Linked DNA regions of Homo sapiens: region 1 is reported to be linked to region 2. Evidence: microRNA targets listed by miRTarBase, many of them from high-throughput screens and not tested one by one. Region 2 holds a microRNA gene; the other region holds the end of a gene's coding sequence.
What was found. The annotated mature microRNA hsa-miR-505-3p reads CGUCAACACUUGCUGGUUUCCU and lies in region 2 at 1,255-1,276, opposite strand. An mRNA with a match to its seed (bases 2 to 7 or 8) in the 3' UTR can be bound and repressed. Matches are read on the target gene's strand: a 7mer-m8 pairs with bases 2 to 8, a 7mer-A1 pairs with bases 2 to 7 and ends in A, and an 8mer does both.

Region 1 (3,413 bases), not on the chromosome of region 2:
TCACAGATGTACAAAGCGTACTGGTGGTTTAACATACAAGAAGGTTGCTGTCCTTTGCACATAAAAATTTTGTTTGAAACTGTGGCTGGTTGAGTACATGAGTTTCTCTAACCAGTCACCACACTCTGAAATAACGCTGCTAACATTCAACTGATAAAAGGGACCATCTCCCTTGGGTAAAGTGTCAAGCAGGATTAAATATATATAATAAACAAGCACCATGAGGAATCTGCTCCTGTTTGATTAGGTCTGTGTTTATATGTTCACTGTGTACCCTCTTTTTGTGCAAGTTGATTACACGGTTTTGTCTGACTTCAAAAGCACAAGGTCACAAGACAAACATTTTTTACAATCTCATGAATGATTTATCTACAGTACAATTTTGAATACAGAATGACCCTTCTTTATTGCTGAAACTGGTGGTACTAAGTGTCTCCTTTCCTTTCTCTTGCACAACCAAATTTCAATCTCAGTCCACCAACTCTTTTGAGCCTAAACTCTAACTAATCAGAGTTGACAGGATGCAGAAGAGGCGGCTGCTAACTGCCCTCACAACTGCACTGCAGCGTCCACACTCCTTGAATGTAGAGTTGATCTGGTGACAGTTGAAATTATGTTTGAAGTGACATCTACATTTGTTTTGCTTCCTGACTTCAGCTGGACCTCAAAGCTGTCCTGCACACTGCAGCTAATGTTTCATAGTCAGTGCCTGGCCTGAAGCCCCAAACCTACCTCCCTTTCAACAAGGTGGGTGGGTGTAGGAAAATGTCTTTTTTCCCCCCAATGTGTGGTGGTTCCCCCCTTAGGAAGCAGAGACTAGGAATGTGCATCTGAAGCATGTGGAGAAATATTCACACACAGCAATGAGGTCAAACAATATTTCAAGAATCAAATGGTTTGTGGAGATGGAAGGATGCACCACATATGCAGACACATTTTTTTAAATGTGCCACTTTTTTTTTTTTTTTTTTTTTAACAACAATCAGCCTTGGATCTCAGAAGTCAAACAAAACTCTTTTAGCAAAAGGCTTACTGCTGACTGCATATAGCAAAGGCAGAGAAAGACGCTGCCCACAACATAATGAAAGATCATCTACATTTTGCCCAGCATCAATCTTAGTCATGCATATCTAGCACCGAGAGCCACTGCGGGGTCACACTGGGGCAGTTACAGAACACATCTTTCTCGGAGTGCAGATGCTCCTTCTTGGTTGGACACCGTGGGCCAATTCAATTTAGAAGTGCACAGGTGAGCTCTGAGAAGGTGTGGCCAGGAGCTGCCAGGGCAGAAACTGGGGCGCACTCGTCCACAGGCGGCAAACGACGCAGCTGGAGGACTTCTTGCTTCAGCCGGAGCTCTGGCATGAACCCCCGGGGAACTGTGCTCACTGAGCGAGGGAGCCCCAGAGGCTCACACAGAGCGGGCTGGGTCTTAAGACGAGGGGACGATCACCGATGTGAGTTCCGGACACTTTGTCCACTCCACATTGGCCATCAGAGGGGGAATCAATGCAACCCAGTGCGAATGACCACAGAATCGCATTCCTTTTCGTAGCAAGGACCAAAAAAAGATGACATTAACAAAAATGATGAAAAACATTGTGCAATGAATTCTTGCAGCTAAGAAAACAGTGCTATTTGCCAACCTAAAGCCCCTCAGTATCATCAGCACACGCTGGCATAAACACATTCACTGTTGTCCCACAGCAAAGAAAAAAATAGTGCACATTGAGCTTTGAATTCTTTTGCCATCCTTGAGATGGCAATAATTTCACTTGCTGGTCTCTGGTTCTAGAAGAAACTTTTAGACAGGGCTCCTGCGGTCTGCGACTGCTGGCAACAGCAGAGTGTATGTGAGTACGGGGGGCACACCATGCAAGTGACAAGTTCTGCATCTTAAACTTTAAAATCTCCTTTGTTCATTAGTGAATTTATATTTCATATATATATATTTGTTGTGATACTATCCACGCAAGATAATACAACACTTTTTTATATTAGCAAACATTACAAGACTTTAATATTCTTGAATGTTTTTCTCTTTTATAGTTCTAAAGAGATCAAAATAAATTAAACGTTTTGTACATAATTACATATTGAGGAAGTTAACTTATTTTATCTTTTTAGTTTAGTACAAAGATATTTGCAAGATAATTGCCGAAATACACCTTATTTATAATTTCTTCTCATTCTATACTAACTTCGAAGGCCGTATACCAGCCTTTGTTTCTTCAGCACATTTCTGACAAAGAAAGCTGCTATTATCTAATTGGAAGGTGCTATTTGGAAGGTTTTCTCGTACCTCAAACTTTCCTAAAAGGATGAGATCTAGCAATGGCTTAAATTAGTAACAGATCCATGTCATTAAGATTTCATGACACATTAAAACAGAGAAAACAATTCTTTGTCACACTACATAAATTGTTTAAAAGAACCCATCTGGAGGGCAGGATATTTTTTTAATTGCTATTTCGGCTTAACAAAATACCACATTTACGAAGAAAGCACTTATTATCCAATAATTAAAAAAGAAAGAAAAGAAAAGAAAGTTTTGAAATGGGCTTTTCCAACAAACTGAAGGCAGTAATCCAAAGTCCTTCTGAGCGAAATTCAGTGGTAAATTCACATTTCACCCCCATGCCAATCGTGGCTGCTGTGAGAAGTCCTCTTCCTCCTCCTCTTCCTCCTCCACTCTCACCACAAATGGCTGTATTCTGGTGAGTGTTGCCCTGTGTCTGCACGCTTCAGTGGACACGGAGAACAATGTCTACATCTCTAGAAAAGTCCATGGAAGCCAAGAGACGAGACTACATGTTGTAGGCCACATAGATGGGGTCTAGCTGGTCTGCCAAAAACCCGTCTCGCAGGTGCATGCGCTGCTTCTCCCCACGGGAGTTGATGGGGATGACGCCGATGTCCACCACGACCACCACTCCGACGATCAGGTAGTGCTCCTCCAGGACCACGTTGGTCACCAAGGGAACCAGGTCCAAGGCTTCTTGTTCCGACCCATCCAGCTCAACCACAACCACCAACAAATTTGTCCAGGTAAACACAGCACTAAAAGACAGAAAAGAAAGCCATCATTATATGTTTATTAATGCTTTATTTAATAGCCGTGGTTTCAAAGTTCCACTTGGCTCTCTCTGACCTGCCTGAGCACTGCCCGACAGTCTCCTCCGGCCTCTCCACGTCCTCCGTCTGCCGCCCACTAATCGTTCCCCATACAGACTTCCTGGCGACAGCACCTGTCGGTGTTTCCTACCAGCCTTCTCTCTCGGTGGCTTCTGCGACTGTTTCACCATCTTCCCGAGTTCCCATTTCTAGCACAGCATCACTCCACCTGGCCAGCGGAGTCTGTGTTCCAGTGCTGCCTCTTTGCTGCTGCCTGGAGGACCAATGCCCTCACTGAA
Region 2 (3,413 bases):
GCCTCCCGAGTAGCTGGGATTACAGGTGCTCTCCATCACACCTGGCTAATTTTTGTTTTTAGTAGAGATGGGGTTTCACCATGTTGGCCAGCCTGGTTTTGAACTCCTGACCTCAAATGATCCACCTGCCTCAGCCTCCCAAAGTGCTGGGATTACAGGCGTGAGCCACTGAGCCCCACCTGTTATACTTTTTTTTATAACAGCTCAAACTCATTTGGGGTTGGCATGTATGTTCTCTAAATTGACTGGTTCCCATGCTTTAAGTACAACAATGACCCTGCACCATTGCTCAGGTAATTGCCTCCTCCTGTAATGAGACTGCCCATCCCTAAAATCTCAGAACCTTCAGCCCTTTGGGTCCCCAGAGGCCCAGTTGACAGGCTACTTCCTCCATAAAGCTCTCCCCAAGAAATGAAGCCAGAGAGCCAGTGCCTCCTTCTGAATGCCTACTGCACTTACTGTGTATGTCCTTCAAAAGGATGGCTCTGGTGACCTACTGGCCTTGTGTGGAGGATGGTCCTGTGTGCTGGTCTTCTCTCTCTTCTACCAAACTGCAGGCTACTGGTGAGCAGGGCTGTACCTTACACACCTCTACAGCACCAAATAGGGGATGAGTGTTCCAAGAAAGCTGTGATTCACATGAATGTTTTCAGAAAAGAAGCCAGAATAAATTGTACACTATACTATAGATCCCTTAATCCTTATTACTGCAAAATACATTAATTGTGAAGCTTAAAGAACGTCCCCACTGCTTACACAACAGGTGTAGCTTACATAATCTGCTCTACCCAGCTGTTACTTACTTGTGGCAATTCCCTCCTGGCTTCTACTCCCTGTCGATATGTGGGATTACTGCACCATCCAGTATGATTTCCTTATTCCTTGCTCCAATCATAACAAATTTGTTAATTTTCCTTTATAACAGTAAAAATGGCTGAAACTCCAAATAACCAGAGATATCCCTAGGGTTTTCCATGACTATAAAACTCAAAAGACAATCCAGGATATAAACCAATATTTGTAAATATTGCCATAAAATTCATTGCTCAGAATTTTTTTTTTCCTATATAGTCTTCTTTGACAAAATACTGCAGTATTCCCACCATTTGGAAATTGTGTTACCCAAAAGGTATAGAATGGGATGAAGTGATGATGCAAATGAGTATTAGGACTATGAGCAAATGAATGGGAGCAGTAACAAAAGTCCAAAAGTCAGGAAAAATGAAAATCCACGAACTTGGCGATGCTCCAGAGAGGAAACCAGCAAGTGTTGACGCTAAACTGGCAGAAACATCAATACTTCCTGGCTCCCCCACTGGGTGCATCAATTTACCACCGGCAGGCTGCTCTTCTGCTTCAAGTGACAAACAGTAAGTGCTTTCAATGACAGTATGAAAAGGAATGACCCATAATCTAGAAGCATGGCTATGGGCAGCAAAGAAAAGATGTGATTGCTGGGAGTCTGTCTCAGCTGTACTGCTGATTAGCTTAATGATCTTGGACAAGTCATTTCCTTTCACTGAAAAAATACCAGTGTTTCACAATATTTGCGTGATGGAAAGAGTTAACATAGCAGGCCTGACACTGCTATTCTTAGTAAGGCCTGTTTGCAAGGTTGGTCCTTGGCTGGTGTCTGGGGACTTGGATTTTGGGAGGGTTTCCATCACCCTGATAAGAGTGGCTCACTCTGCTTAAGCTGTGTAAACAATAGGGTTTACACTGAATACCTGCTTTCCTCCTTGGGGTCTGGAATTTTGCTGTGTACCAGGTGGAGGGTGCCTGTGTGACCAGCTCCCACTAAAAACCCTGGGTACTGAATCTCTAATAAGCTTCCCTAGTAGACATTTCACACAAGTTGTCAAAACTCATTTGCTAGAGGAATTAAGCATGACCTGTGTGATTTCAGTGAAAGAGGACTGGAAGCTTGCACATGGTTTCCTCCAGACTTGGCCCCAATGAGCCTTTTCCCGTTACTGACTTTGCTCTGTATCCTTTTGCTATAATAAATCACATCCGCAAGCGTTTCTATGTACTGAGTTCTGCCAGTGAATCAACAAACCTAGGCCGGTTTTGAGGACCTCTGTCACAATTGGTATAGTGTTGAATAGTCTACCAAACGTTTTTTTCAACAGTCTTGTGAAATAGGTATTATTATTCCCATTCTATCGATGAAGAAACTGAAGTTCAAAAAGGTGAACAGAGAGTGTGCCCAGAAAATAAATATTTCCGTGTTTACTATATTATATATTGCTGTTCTCAAATTTTAGTGAACCTAAGAACCACTTGGAATGCTTGTTAAAAACAGTTTCTTGGAGTCTGTCACCCAAGACTTGGATTCAGTAAGTTCAAGGCCCAGGAATCTGTATTTATAGTAAGCATACAGGATTATTATTATTTGAGATGGAGTTTTGCTCTTGTTGCCCAGGCTGGAGTGCAATGGCACGATCTCGGCTCAGTGCAACCTCTGCCTCCCAGGTTCAAGTGATTCTCCCGCCTCAGCCTCTCAAGTAGCTGGGATTACAGGCCTGTGCTACCACTCCTGGCTAATTTTGTAGCCCAGTCTGAAATGCATAAGCTTCTTGGTGGCTGCTTCCTAAACTGATCATTCTTCATCTGTTATTACTGACTCAGACTGTGTTACCAATTCAGCTCAAAACAATTAAACAAGTATTAATTGAACATCTACTGTTTACCTGATGCTGTGCTAACTGCAAGATCATTTTCAAGAACACTTCTGATTTTTCCAAGAATACCTTGGTAAAGAGAAAGGGACTAGGAAAACATTGCCACATTAATACTTTATGACAACATATAATAGAGACGTCTAAAAAACAAATGATGATATCTGCTTGAACAGCAATATCATCAACATCACCAATCCTCCCATATTCCATTAAATACATATGGCACAAGAAATCAATGATTTCTACTTCACAAATACAGGTTAACCTTCTAAATCTGGAAATCCACGGTCCATTATCATTTATAAATCACATCTTCTATTATCAAGAAGTCAGCCGACCCAGTAATCCGTCCATACACTGCAATAATTGAGGGGCTGTCTGCCAATGTGTGGGCATAGGGCATCCTGTGCCCATATCTGCAGTGCTGAGCACTCATTCATCATTAAGCTGCAGCAGTGTTAACATATGCTGCAGTTGTGCCAGTATGTTTTGTTTTACGATCACCGCTAATCTACCCTTATACCAGGCCAAGAAGGTAAATGTTAAGTGAAAGGAAATAAACTCGAGAGCCAGCACCTAATTCATTTGTGGAAGCCCAGAACCTCCCTCCACCTAACCAGAAAAACTCCCCCAGTCTCGAGGGTTCCAGATGTAAAAGGTTCATCTGTATAAAGCACTACAGATGTACAGGAAATTCCACCACCTTGAAGAAAAAAATAGTATTTTTTT

Region 1: the mRNA of DIP2C is a reported target of hsa-miR-505-3p. The part of its 3' UTR that is shown has no 7-base or 8-base seed match.

Annotation. Positions count from the first base shown.
Region 1 is chr10:274,518-277,930 of GRCh38, forward strand. DIP2C (disco interacting protein 2 homolog C) reads right to left here. Exons shown (of 37, transcript NM_014974.3): 37 at 1-3,060. The coding sequence ends at 2,808. Among named protein-coding and RNA genes, the nearest start is that of ZMYND11, 140 kb to the left of the region's middle.
Region 2 is chrX:139,922,906-139,926,318 of GRCh38, forward strand. It overlaps MIR505 (microRNA 505), which reads right to left and starts at 1,326; the gene lies at 1,243-1,326. All of the region lies in intron 1 of ATP11C (ATPase phospholipid transporting 11C (ATP11C blood group)), which reads right to left.